Homo sapiens: one gene and its partners. The protein of the gene in region 1 interacts with the protein of each later gene in a pairwise test. Each region holds a gene or a part of one and is shown on either strand. Other genes may lie near its edges.

Region 1 (3,500 bases):
CCATAGGAGATGACTTTAATCCCCTTGTCCAGCATGTTTTCTCGAAGCTTTTTGAACTCATCTACGTCTCCTCTCCGAACCAGCATGAAATGTTCTAGGTCAGATTTATGCTTGACAGCCTCCAAGAAAAGGGCCTGGAAAGTGGTGTCATCCACAGTCCAGCCACAGCCCAGGAAAAGAAATGACTTGTTTTCGTAGAGTTTCTGAATTTCTCTCTGGAAGGAAAAGATACAACATATTGACATTGTGAAGACACACTCAAGGCAAGTCTGAAACAAGAAGGTCATGCTACGTTGAGCAGACTGTGATGACCAATTAAGCAAGACTTAAGTGGGTTGGTATGTCCCATCAAGGAGTGTGATCTCTTGCTTATTGCTGTAACTTGATGATTGGTCTAAAATTTTATCTTTACCTGCCATTCTTCTGTAGGCTCTCTAATCAGCGTTTCATAGAGCTGGTGTCAGTGTACTGGTGCAGTAGTTTACTTCTTTATTTTTTATGCTTTATATATTTTTTGAGACGGAGTCTCACTCTTTCACCTGGGCTAGAGTGTAGTGGTGTGACCTCGGCTTACTGCAACCTCCACCACCCTGGTTCAAGTGACTCTCATGCCTCAGCCTCCCGAGTATATTACAAGTGTGCACCACCACACCCAGCTAATTTTTGAATGTTTAGTAGAGACGGGGTTTTGCCATGTTGGCCAGGCTGGTCTGGTACTCCCGACCTCGAGTGATCCACCCACCTTGGCCTCCCAAAGTGCTGGGATTACAGGCGTGAGCCACTGCACTTGGCCAGTAGTTTACTTTTTTATTTTTATTTTATTTTTGAGACAGAGTCTTGCTCTGCCACCTAGGCTGGAGTGCAGTGGCATGGTCTTGGCTCACTGCAACCTCCTCTGCCTCCCAGGTTCAAGCGATTCTCCTGCCTCAGACTCCCAAGTAGCTGGCATTACAGGCACCTGCCAGCACGCCCAGCTAATTTTCCTATTTTTAGTAGAGACAGGGTTTCACCATGTTGGCCAGGCTGGTCTGGAACTCCTGACCTCATGTGATCTGCCTGCCTCAGCCTCCCAAAGTGTTGGGATTACAGGCGTACTTTTTTAGATTTATGTGCCCAGAGGTCATTGTGCAAAGAGTAGGTCTTCATATATCTTAATCCTTCCATTTCTGGACCATATTTGCCTTTGTCTCACAAACTGAACTGTGAATCACCAGAGAAGATAATTCCATCATCGGATTTGCTCAAGGAAAGGCGTTTGATACTTAGAACATCAGTATGTGTGTGTGTGTGTATACATATACACACACAAAAACACAGAAATGACTGCCTAAGGGATCACTCAATGTCAGAGATGGATGCAGTTATGGCAGATGTTGGGAAAGAATGGGTAAAAAGAAAAAAAAGTCCCTTGTGCTTTAGACAATACATTTTCTCGGTCTTTTGCCTCATTATTAAAAGATGCTATAATCTATATGACCCAGTCCTGAAAACAGCAAACAAGATTCTTAGAGCTGGGGGCAGCGAATACTTCTGGTTTGAACATGTTTATCTGAACAAGTCGAAAATGTGCATCCCAAAAGATCAATAAGCTTTTCACAAAGAGTAAGTGTGAATAAATGTGGTTAATTCAATATAAGCCCATTGCCATTTATACAAAGTCTCTTTAGAATGTATTCTCTAGTAGTGGTTGGTTTGTTAAGAAGCTGCCTCAATTATTTCTGACACAGAGAGGGCTATTAATAAACCAAATGATGATAAAGGGTACTAATGTATCCTTTGTATGTGAAGATGATGCCAATGATGACATGCCATCTGCTGGTTGTCAATTAAGTACAAACAAAGATCATAGGGTTTGACACCTTAAGAGAAATTCTACATTTCCTAGACAGCATGCACACCCATAAGTTAAGAAGCACAGGAAGAACGTCTGACTTTCCAGTTTCTTTCTTTTTTTAGAGATAGGGCCTTGCTCTGTCACCCAAGCTGGAGTGCAGTGGCTCTAGACACAGCTCACTACAGCCTTATATTCCTAGTCTCAACTAATCTTCCTGCCTCAGCCTCCCAAGTAGCTGGGACAGCATGCACCATGATGCCTAGCTAATTTTATTTTTGTAAAGACAAGAGTCTCGCTATGTTGCCCAGGCTGGTCTCGAACTCCTGGCCTCAGGTGATCCTCTCCCCTTGGCCTCCCAAAGTGTTGGGATTATAGGCATGAGCCACTGCTCCTAGCCCCTGACCTTCCGTTTTCACTTAATGAAAAGAAGATGTTCCCCTTTAAGATCTATGGCATATTTAGAGAGATTTCCCAGGAAGGAGTTCCTGAGACCAGCAAGATCAGCCCCACTCACCATGACTTCAGTGTTCCTGAGCACGTTCTGATATCCAGCCGGATGAAGGACAATGCCACTAGGGTTGGTGTAGACTCCGTGAATATGCAACACGCTCAGCTTACGCTTCTCCTGAGCCCACTCGAGGACCTGCACAACACACATATAGCCCAACCAGCTTGGCAGGGCTGAGCACCTGTTTAAAGGTCACAATGGGCAAGAGGCTGTTTTGAGGACTAGACTTCTGACATAAACTCTCTAGCTTCATGATATAGGACAAGAATGCAAAACCTGATGTGGTCTAAGTTTCCACTTCAGGAATGACTGTCAAGAATGATGGCAACAAATTTGGTGATTTCTCTTTGAAAGTAAGCATCAAAAATCACAATTTGTCATAATTTGCAGAAACAACAGGGACCCTTTGCACTGGTGGCATGCATGAGAGCTATGGACAACTGCTTCAGTGATCGCCCCAAGAAATCAAGCCTCTGTATCCAGGCCCTTGTGTGGCCCCTCTTCGGAGTGACTCCAGGCTAACCACATGGCTTGCTTTTAGCCAATGGGATACTAGCAAACACACACAAGCAGAAGCTTGAAAAGTGTTGGCACAAGAAGTCTTACTTCTCTTGTGTTACTTTTGGAATCCAGCTGCCATGCGAAGAAAGTGAAGAAGCCTGGGCTAGCCTGCTGGGACATATATGGCCTGGCCAATTGCTTGCAGGGAAGTATGGTCCCCTTATATCACTCAGCCCTGGTGCGGCCATCAGATGTCTGCAGGTATGTGAAGAGGGTGCAAAAATCAGCAGAAAAAATGCCTGGCTGAGTCACTGAGCCCAGTTCAAATTGTTAATATACTTTATCATGGGCAGATAAGATATTTGTTGTTACAAGCCACAAAGTTTCACGGCCATTACTTGTACAGCAATAGATAAGTGATAGAAAAATCACTTCAGTCACCTCTGAGGAACCTAAAAGGCTGCCAGCGAAGAACAATCATTTAGACAACAGCGAATGCAATAGCCACCTGATTCCATGGCTCCATTTTCCCAAGGACTGGAGACAGCATACATTTATTCTTATCACATTTTGGAGAAATAGGCTATGAATCAGGAAAGTAGTCAAGAGGCACCGAGATTTAGAATTTGAATGTTACTAGGCCCCATTCTGACTACC
Region 2 (3,500 bases), on another chromosome or scaffold:
TATTCCAGTTCTTAGGGGGAATGCTTTCAGCTTTTCCCCATTCAGTATGTTACCTATGGGTTGTCATATATGGCTTTTATTATTTTGAAATATGTTTCTTCTGTGCCTAGTTTGTCAAAGGTTTTTATCATGAGAGGATGCTGAATTTTGTCAAATGGTTTTTATATATCTGTTGAGATGATCATGTGGTTTTTGTTTTTAATTCTGTTTATAGGCTGAATCACATTTATTGGTTTGTGTATGTTGAACCATTCTCGCATCCTTGGAATAAAACCCACTCGATCATGGTGGCTTATCTTTTTGATGTGCTATTAGATTTGGTTTGGGGGGTTTTGTGGGGGGATTTGTGTTTGTTTTTGGAGGATTTTTGCATCTACATTCATCAGGGATATTGCTCTGTAGTTTTCTTTTTTTGTTGTGTCTTTATCTGACTTTGGTATCAGAGCAAGAGTGGCTTTCTAGAATGAGTTAGGGAGGATTCTCTCCTCTTAGATTTTTTGAAAGAGTTTTAGTAGAATTGGTACCAGTTCTTTGTACCTTTTGTGGAATTCCAGTGTACCTTTGTCTGGTCCTGGGCTTTTTTGTTCTTGGGAGGTTTTGCATTGCTGATTCAATCTCACTGCTCATTACTGGTCTGTTTAGGATTTCTGTTTCCTCCTGGCTCAATCTTGGGAGCCAGATGGGCTCAATCTTGGGAGGTTGTATGTTTCCAGGAATTCATTTTCTCTAGAATTTCTAGTTTTCAAGTGTATTGTTCATAAGAGTGTCTGATCATGTTTTTTATTTCTATGGTATTAGTTGTAATGTCTCATTCATTTCTGATTATGTTTATTTGGATCTTCTCTTTTCTTGGCTAGTCTTACTGGCAGTCTATCAATTTTATCTTTTCAGAGATAAAAACGAGCTTTTCGTTTCATTGATCCTTTGTATGGTTCCATGGTTCTCTATTTTATTTAGTTCTGCTGTGGTCTTTGTTATATCTTTCTTCTGCTGACTTTGGGTTTGGATTTTTCCTGTTTTTCTAGTTCCTGGAGGTGAGACACAGGTTGTTAATTTTTTATCTTTTTTTTTTTTTAGTGTAGACATTTAACACTATAAACTTCCCTCTTAGCACTGCTTTTGCTTTATCCCAGAGGTTTTGGTATATTGTATTTTCGTTTTCATTCATTTCAAGAAATTTTAAAATTTGTCTTGTCATTAACCCAAAGATTGTTTAGGATCATGTTTAATTTTCATGTATTTGTATAGTTTCTAGAGTTCTTCTTGGAATTGATTTCTAGTTTTATTCTGCTGAGGTGTGAGAAGATACTTGGTGTGATTTTGGTTTTTAAAAATGTATTGAGACTTTTTTTGTGACCTAACATATGTTCTATCTTGGAGAATGCTCCATGCACTAATCAGAAGAGTGTATATTCTGATGTTGGATAGAATGTTCTGTAAATGTCTGTTAGCTCCATTTGACCTAAAATTTAATTTAAGTCCAGTGTTTCTTTGTTGATTTTCTGTCTCAGTCTATCTAGTGGTGTCTGTGGGGTGTTGAGGTCCCCCACTGTTATTGTATTGCTGTGTATTTTTTTAGGTCTAATAATATTTGTTTTATGAATTTGGGTGCCCTGATGTTTGGTGTGTATATACTTAGGATTGTTATCTTATTTGTTTATTGATCACTTTATCATTATGTAATGACTTTGTCTTTTTTTACTGCTGTTGATTTAAAGTCTTTTTTTATCTGATATAAAAATAGCTACTCCTGCTCGTTTCTGGTTTCCATTTGCATGGAATATCTTTTTCTACCGCTTTACCTTCAGTCTGTGTCTTTATCGGTAAGATGAGTTATGTTGCCATTTGACTTATCTTCTTTCTTTGTGTAATTATTTTATAAGGCCTGCAAGTTTTATACTTTTGTGTCTTTTATCATGGCAAGTATCAACCTTTTGTTTTCATGGTTAGAACTCACTTGAGCATTCCCTGTAGACCTGGTCTAGTGGTGACAAACTCCCTAAGTATTTGTTTATTTGGGGAAGGCTTATTTTTCCTTCATTTATAGAGCTTATTCTAGTAGGATACAAATTTTTTTGTTTTTTGAAGCAACTTGAAAATAGAATCCAATCTCTTCTGGCTTGTAAGGTTTCTACAAGTTGAATTGTGTGATGGAGCTTCCTTTATAGGTGACTAAACACTTTTCTCTTGCTGATTTTAGGATTTTATCCTTCATATAAACCTTAGTCTGATGACTGTATGCTGTGGTGAGTTCCATCTTGCAATGTATTTTCGTGGAGTTCATTAGATCTCTTTTATCTGGATATCTAAAGCTCTTGCTAGATTAAGGAAGTTTTCCTCAATTATTTCCTTAACTAGGTTTCCAAACTTTTTACTTTTTCTTCTCCCTCAGGAATACCTATGATTCATAGGTTTGGTTGCTTTATGTAGTTTCATACTTCTTAGAAGCTTTGTTTTTTCTTCCTTATTCTTTTTTCTTTACTTTCGTCTGACTAGATTAATTCAAAAGACCTGTCTTGAAGTACCGAGATGCTTTCTTCTGCTTGTCTAGTCTATTGTAAAAGCTTTCAACTGTATTTTGTAATTTCTTCAATGATTTTTTCATTTCCAGAAGTTTTTATTTGTTTGGCTTTTTAAAAAAAAGATACCTATCTCTTTCTCTTTGGTAAATTTCTCATTCATATCCTGAATTGATTTTTTGTATTGCTTTTCAAATTTCTTTTGTATCTCATTGAGCTTCCTTAAAATCAGTATTTCAAATTATTTATCTGGCTCATTTTTTCCTTTATGATCTTTATTTCTTTTATGTTGTTTTTTTCCTGTCTTACTGCACTGACTAGAACTTCAGTAATGTTGAATAAAGGTTGTGAGAGTGGATATACTTGCCTTGTTCCTGATTTTCTGAGGGAAGCATTTAGGTCTAATTTTAGAATACTAAATCAGCCTTGCATTCTTGAGATAATCACTACTTTGTCTTGATTTATCCTTTTTATACATTGTTAGATTTGATTTGATCACATTTTGTTAAGAATTTTATAAATATGTTCATTAGGAATGTTAGTCTGTAGTTGCCTTTTCTTGGAATGTCATTGTCTTATTTTGGTGTTAGAATAATGCTGGCTTCCTAAAATGTGTTGAGAAGTATTTACACCTTTTCATTTTTCTGGAAGAGTTTGTCTAGCATTGGTATTGTTTCTTCCTTATATGTTTGGTAAAATTCATGGATGAAGCCCTATAAGCCTGAACTTTTGTTTGTGGAAATATTTGTAAGTATGAATTCTGTTTCTTTGGTAGATAAGGGCTATTCAGATTATCTGTATGTTCTCAAGTAAACTTATTTTGTGTCTTTCAAGAAATTTGTCCAGTTCATCTGCATTGTTGCATTTATTGCCATAAAGTTCATAAGTCCCTTATCCTTTTAATAATATATACAGGATCTATAGTGATGTCACCTCTCATCCTGATATTTGTAATTTGTATCTTCTTTCTGTTTTTATCAT
Region 3 (3,500 bases), on another chromosome or scaffold:
CTATAGTTTTTTAGCAGGGTTTTCACTGTACACATCAAGGGCTCCTATCCCAAAGTCAGGAAACAAAATAGGATGAAAGCACCAAACTCCAAACTGACCTCTTTGTGCCTTGCTCCAGGGCAAGAGTGCAATGGGCACACTACACAAGCTCCCCAGCCCCTCTCTGCAGAATGTGAGCGCAGGCCTCCCTAGCACACCCCACTGGAGCTGAACATCCCAGCCCCTTTCCTTCCTCCCGTCCACTGCAGGCCCCGTTCCTTCAGATCTGGCTTAGAGCCATACTAGGCCACCTGGACCATCCACCTGATACATGACAGTGCTGTTCACCACTGTCTGATTGATCTTTTCACACAGCCCGTGACTGCACTCCACTGCTCTAGGACCACTCCAGTGCCCACAGCCACAGGATTCAAGTCGAAGTCCTCCTTTGGCCTTCTCAGTTGGCCTCAATCCAGTTTCCAGTCCCATTCCCCATGTTTCTCCTGCGCCAAACTCCTCTCACGCCAAAGAGTCAGTCAACTGAAGGATCAGTCATGTGTGGAAGGCCACTTGGTGCCTTGGGCTGGGTGGGACTCCCTGGTGGAGTATAAAAAATACTGAGACACTGGGTTTGCCTTTAAGGATTTACAACCTCTTGGAGAACAAGCCATATGTGAAAGCCTGTGATTCATTGCCAAGCTGTACTGACTATATTCAATGAGACTCCAGAGGGCCTAGGAGGCTGGAGGGCTCCTAAATGCATTTGGGGAGATAAGAAGTAATAAAGATACCAGCTACCTCTTGTGATTTGCTAGACTGGGCACTTTATGAATACTAGTCCCAATCCTTACAACTCTGCCTGTTAAACATCATTTGCTCCATCAAATGTCTCCCCGTTTTCCAGATGAGAGAGCCGAAGCTCAAAAAGATTTAGTTGTTCAAGATCATACGGTTAGTAGATGATGGAGTTGAGATGGAGCCCCAGGTGTGTCTGGTTCCACCATGTGAGTCCTTCCCCCCACACCCGACCATCTCTCCCCACATGTCTGATATAGGCCAAGGTTCTCTTCCCACCCAGATATCTGGAGATCTGAGGGAAATCAGTGTTCGGGGCCTATTTCTCTTGCCTTCTCTCACACCAACAGTCTTACAAAGTGTCCTGAACATGGTATGTCTTAGTAAGTGTGTGGTGTCTCGCTGATGGAGACTTGTGTTGGGGCTGAAGGGAGCTGGAGTGTCTGCCCTGAGACTCCCCCTCCTTGGCTGCCTCACCAAGACCATCCAGCTCCTCTTGGCCCCACAGGCCTCTGCCCAGCTCCGAGCACACCCCACTGGAGCTGAAGAACAGCCCTGTATCATGGATACCATTTGTCTTCCCAATCTTGAGGACAGATGGCACAGCCAGGACTCTCGGTTGCAAAGGCCACAGAAGCTCGCATGGCTGTGGTGGTGCCAGCTTCTGAGTATCATGAAAATGAGGCCATGCAGCCTGGGAGAGCCTCGGGTGGTAGGAGTCTGGGCTACATTTCCATTTGGCTTTGGAATAGGCTTTGGTTTCCCCCTTAAACACTGATGCCACAGTTGTCAAATCTGTGAGTCCGCTTGAAGCTACGGCATGAAGAACCAAGTTCAGAAGCAGTGGGAAGCCAGGGCAACTCCTCCACGTGGCGCCTCACCTCTGCCCTACCTGCAGCAGCCCTCTCTACCTCTTCTAAGGAAGGAAGCAAGAGGAGCAAAAACGTGGGGCTGACTCAAAGCATCATCTCCATCTGTCCCCACATCTGGGCAATAAGTGCTGTGGCTTCAAAGATAAAGAACTCTCTGTACAGAAAGGACTGAGAATAAATCAAGTGGGCTAGAGATGGTTGACTGGCCCTAGCTATGTGTTTGACAACAGGGATAACAACAGCCACCCACCAAAATTTGCTAAGCACACACTTCCTCCAGGTACTGATAAGTGCTTTATGGAGATTATCTCAATTAACCCTCACAAAAACCCTGCAAGATGTTTTACGAGGAGAGAACCAAGGTTCAGCGAGGTGGAGTGACTTGTCCTAAGGCACACTAGTGGAGACTGCAGGGACCGACCCCAGGTCTCCCGGGTCCAAAGCCCCGCCTCTTAAGCGCCTCCTCCGCAGTGGAGGCCTCGGGAGCCGCCCCGTCCCGGCTTACCCCTGGCTGCGGTAGGCGGCGCACCTCTCCAGTGGGACCCGCAGGACGCCGTCTCTCAGCCCCACGAAGAGCGCGCGGGCGCTGTGCAGGATGCGCAGGCTGCGCAGGGGCTCGCGGCGCCCGGGGGGCAGCACGTGCAGCTCCTCCAGGTAGCAGCCGTGGAGGCTGCGGCTCGCCGTGGACAGCGCCTTCAGGATGGTGCCCGACTCTGGAGGAGAGGGGGAGCCAGACCAAGGTGGCCTTGAAGGCCCCGGAAGCTTGCAGCCCCGCGCCGTCCCTCAACCCACCCCCGACCTGCAGTCCAGGTTGGACCGGGCCGGCTCACCGGTGCCAATGTAGAGTACATGGTAGAGCGTGTCTTTAGCCTGCACCAGGTCCACCACGAGGTGTGAGAAGCGCACGCTGTCCTGGGTGACACAGGGCTCGGGTGTCACCGGCTGCACGGCCTCGCTCATCAGGAAGAGGCGCTGCGCGTCCTGCAGGCTGCGCTCCGTCAGGTTCTCGTTGGGACCGGTCTCAGGCAGGGTGCCACACTGCCGCGGGGAGCCAGGTCACGCGCGCCCCGGCCACCAGGGCTGCCGCCATCCCCCGCCGGCTCCCTCCTCCTGGCAACCCAGGTGGCCACAGCAGCGGACGCTGATTCTCCAGCACCCCCCACCCCTAGCATCCCTGCTGGGCGTCCTGCACCCTTTCCAGGGTGGGATGCCTCTTCTTTGGGAACTAAGAACAGGAGACTGGGGAGATGGGGAAGGAGGATCCTGCCAGGGTTGGGGAAGAGGAGGGAGGAGAGCAAAGGGGACTGGACTATCTAAAAACGGATACTTTGAGTGTGGACGAGTGTCCGGTGATTTTTATGCTGTTGCTGCAGGCTCCCCTCTCCTACCTTGGGCCAAGCCTGCTGTCCCTCTCCTGTGTCCTTGCCAGCTCAAAGTTCTTATGATTTCTAAACCAAAGCTGGAAGCCTTCTGAGCATCTCCTACATTCCAGGCATATGAACCTTCTCACATATCTGTGAGGTATTATCTCTTACAGTATTATCCCTAGTTCCAGATAAGGAAAAGGAGACTGAAGGAGGTTGGATGACTTTTTTGTCCAAGGTCACACAGAGATAGGCTAGATGGTAGGACTGCAAAGCTTGAGGTCTTTCCCAGCTCCATCCCACCCCCTGGGTGGGAAGCTGGGCGAACACGAAAGTCAACCATCAGCAGCCTCCTCTGCCCCCTGGTTCTTTCCCTTTCTCCATGGGGATGGGGGATACTCACACTACCCACGGCTGGGCCCTGACCACACCCTGACCACTCCTAGCACTGACCACTTCCAGGAATTAGTACCCATGTTGAACACACTGC
Region 4 (3,500 bases), on another chromosome or scaffold:
ACAAGACATGCCGAAGAAGGCTGCAGACAGGTGTCCTTGGTAATTTCATAAAACAAAAGGAAATTCTGTTGCTCAATGCACCTTTTGATTTTTTTTTTGGGTGGGACGGGAGGGTGGGAGTGGACAGAATTTCACTGTGTCATCCAGGCTGGAGTGCAGTGGCGAGATCTCTGCCCACTGCAACCTCTGCCTCCTGAGTTCAATCGATTCTCGTGCCTCAGCCTCCTGAGTAGCTGGGATTACAGGCATGCACCACCACACCCGGCTAATTTTTGTATTTTTAGTAAAGACAGGGTTTCACCATGTTGGCCAGGCTGGTCTTAAACTCCTGGCTTCAAATGATCTGCCTGCCTTGGCCTCCCAAAGTGCTGGGATTACAGGCATGATCCACCACACCTGGCCTGACTTGCGATATTGTACGCTTCTTTCTAGGCTTATGTAATGGATTTTTTAAGATGAATTTATCCACAAATTATAAACTCATTTTTAAATAAGTTTATTCAGTCCAGATAGTGTTTCTTGCCCTGCTCTCCTGCCTCAACCTCTGCCCAGGATCCTCTCATCATTTCTCATATCATCCCCATTGTGCAGAAGGCAGTGTCGTGCAACTTAACTACCCCATCCTCACGTGGGAAGTGGCATCATCTCAGCTCACCGCAACCTCTGCCTCCCGGGTTCATGCGATTCTCTAGCCTCAGCCTCCCGAGTAGCTGGGATTACAGGCGCCCGCCACCACGCCTGGCAAAGTTTTTTATTTTTAGTAGAGACGGGGTTTCATCATGTTGGTCAGACTGGTCTCGAACTCCTGACCTCAGGTGATCCGCTTGCCTTGGCATCCCAAAGTGCTGGGATTACAGGCGTGAGCCACCATACTTGGCCTCATCTGGCTTTTCTTAGATTTCCCTTAAATTACTCAAGATTGAGTCTGCCCACATAGTGGGGACCCAGACCTTGTCTGTCACATCTGCGGCTGAGACACCTTGGAGAAGCACAATAGAAAACACTGGGGGTGGCTCATGCCGGTAATCCCAGCACTCTGGGATGCCGAGTTGGGCAGATGACTTGCTGAGGCCAAGAGTTCGAGACGAGCCTGGCCAGTATGGCGAAACCCAGTCTCTACTAAAAATACAAATATTAGCCGTGCACGGTGGTGCAAGCCTGTGGCCCCAGCTACTCAGGAGGCTGTGGCATGAGAATCGCTTGAACCCGGGAGACAGAGTTTGCAGTGAGCCAAGATCGTGCCACTGCACTCCAGCCTGGGTGACAGAGTGAGACTCTCTCAAAAACCAAAAAAAAGCACCAGCATCTTCTCTACTAATAACTTGAGAAGGAAAAAATAAAATAAAAAGAGAAAGTAATATAAAAATGAAAAGAAACAAGTACTGTACCTCAAGCGGTGTCGGCAGCCCTGGGCAGCATGAGCCCTGCGGACGCCAGAGAGGCCTTCACTCTCCCACTTCCCACTGCCCCAAACCAACGCCTGCCACTCACATTACAGCGGTGCAGAGGAGCAGGCACTCACCTCTGGGGTGGCTTGGGCCCACCCAGGAAGGTACCACATAGCCTCTTCAAGTAGCTCATGTCCACGTTGTAGAAGTTGTGCCCGGCCTGGAAGAGAGTCACCCACTGACTGAAGGGTCTCCCGGGATGGCGGTGGATGGGCACGCTGCCCACACACGAAGCCCAACCCAGGGAAAACCAGAGACCCTACCCAATTCAAGGGCCCAAGGGTTGGGGGGCACTGGGGAACAGCCCAGAGTGACACACGGGCAGAGTGGGTGTCTCCCCTGATCTGCTCCCATTTGCTGACAATCAGAGACCCTCTCCAGCCCTCAACATGGCTCACTCCTCATTCTTGGTTCTCAGTCCGAGGGTCAGGGCTGGGCAGAGACAAAGGGAATCAGGGGCGGGACTGATAAACTGCCACTGTGCCACGGCGGGCGTCACAGGGGCTAGCTGGTTTTGAACACTTCCGAAGCTCACTTACTCCCCCACACACCTCCACGTGCACACAACCATATATTCATACACATGCACACACACTCATGCACACACGTGGGGTATGGGACAAAGGAGGGAGGCGTGGTCCAGAGCCGACATGACTCAGGGTCAGGGCCATTTTTCAACAGTCCAGGACAATGTTCTGTGGGCCACAGTGAGGGCTGGCTTCCCATTCCTGGAGTCAGTGTGCACAGACCGACCTGGGAGGGGACATACATAGGACGCAGCCCCACAGCCTACCTGCCACGTGGTATTCCGTTTGTTGACATAGTTGACCAGCTCATCCGACAGGGGATGGAAAGAGGGCCTGCTCCGGGCATTGGCCAACACCAGCAGGCAGCAGAGGGAGGCCCAGAGCTGCCACATGTTGGAAGCCGGATCCTAGATCCACCTGGAGAGGACAGAGGGCATCAGGACACCTCTCTGTTATGTGGGTCGAGGGCTCACACACACAGGGGCACCGTCTCGGGCATCAGTGGGGACCCCCATGCTCGTCCTGGCCCAGGCGGAGAACTCTTAAGGAGCTGAGGTGTCTATGGGATCCCCGCCCCCCTGCCCGAAGCACGCCATGACCTCGTGTGGGTCCCCGGGGGCCAGGCGGCCAGAGCCCAGAGAGAGAGCCAAGGGGCTGTGCTGGACGAGACCGAGTCCAGGGCCTTCGCTGCTATTTTTAAACGGCCTTTGCATGGATTTGTAGAACAGCTTGAGACACTTTCCCAAGTGAGTGATATGAAACAGTTAAGAGCCTGTCTGTGTGATTACACCCTAAGTGGAGGACCCAGGGGACAGGGAAATGTAAGAAAAGTTACAATCCAGGAGTCCTAGTTTCGACAGGACACAGACAAACAAGCTCGGTGTGGGCTGGTGGAGGTTGAGGCTGAGAGGTGGGGCTGGGCTGGCCATCCACCCACTCCCGGGGCCTCTCTGGTTTTTCCAGTCAGCCAAGGGCTCTGCTTCCGGCTGCGGAGATGAGGCTTCTGAGAAGGAAAACTCTCACCTCGATGCCCCAGCCGTTTGATCTTGCACTGGCTCATGAGTCACAAGCCAGTGCTTTCCAGCTTGAACTCTGAGTCACCCTCCTAAGTGAGCAGCTCAACAAAAGCAATACATGTCTCCTGGGCGCCTGCATCCAGGGCTGGGGAGAGCCGCGGCGCGGGGAGCTGGGTGAGGCAGGGGTTCCTGTCAGTCACTCCAGGGGCTCCCACGGGTGGGTGAGGTGTTCTACCTCCCACAGGTCACAGGTCGTCATGAAAGTCACAGGACTGCGGTGTCAGTGCTTAACAAACTGCCTGGCACCTAGGGGTTCTATCTGAAGAACAATTTAAACTTCATTGTTGCTTAAGCAACAATTCATCTAGGAGAATAAATATATGAGGACAGCAAGATGGCTCTGGAAAAAAGCTTTTTTTTTTTTTTTGAGACAGGGTCTTGGTCTGTGGGCCATGTCACCCAGTCTGGGGTACAGTGGCACAATCTTGGCTCACTGCAGCCTCCACCTC

What was found.
Region 2: the proteins of FAM118B (region 1) and ZNF235 interact in a two-hybrid assay, tested with the Homo sapiens proteins (one large-scale study listed by BioGRID and IntAct).
Region 3: the proteins of FAM118B (region 1) and SEMA5B interact in a two-hybrid assay, tested with the Homo sapiens proteins (one large-scale study listed by BioGRID and IntAct).
Region 4: the proteins of FAM118B (region 1) and CTSB interact in a two-hybrid assay, tested with the Homo sapiens proteins (one large-scale study listed by BioGRID and IntAct).

Annotation. Positions count from the first base shown.
Region 1 is NC_000011.10:126,253,282-126,256,781, reverse strand, and holds part of FAM118B (protein FAM118B), read right to left. Parts: intron 2,524-3,500; coding exon of another isoform or gene 2,478-2,523; coding exon 2,349-2,477; intron 1,632-2,348; exon of another isoform or gene 216-1,631; coding exon 1-215. UniProt on the Homo sapiens protein: May play a role in Cajal bodies formation.
Region 2 is NC_000019.10:44,291,526-44,295,025, reverse strand, and holds part of ZNF235 (zinc finger protein 235), read left to right. Parts: intron 1-3,500. UniProt on the Homo sapiens protein: May be involved in transcriptional regulation.
Region 3 is NC_000003.12:122,919,764-122,923,263, forward strand, and holds part of SEMA5B (semaphorin-5B), read right to left. Parts: intron 2,685-3,500; coding exon 2,477-2,684; intron 2,360-2,476; coding exon 2,152-2,359; intron 1-2,151. UniProt on the Homo sapiens protein: May act as a positive axonal guidance cue.
Region 4 is NC_000008.11:11,851,088-11,854,587, forward strand, and holds part of CTSB (cathepsin B isoform 1 preproprotein), read right to left. Parts: intron 2,393-3,500; 5' UTR 2,368-2,392; coding exon 2,242-2,367; intron 1,609-2,241; coding exon 1,523-1,608; intron 1-1,522. UniProt on the Homo sapiens protein: Thiol protease which is believed to participate in intracellular degradation and turnover of proteins. Cleaves matrix extracellular phosphoglycoprotein MEPE. Involved in the solubilization of cross-linked TG/thyroglobulin in the thyroid follicle lumen.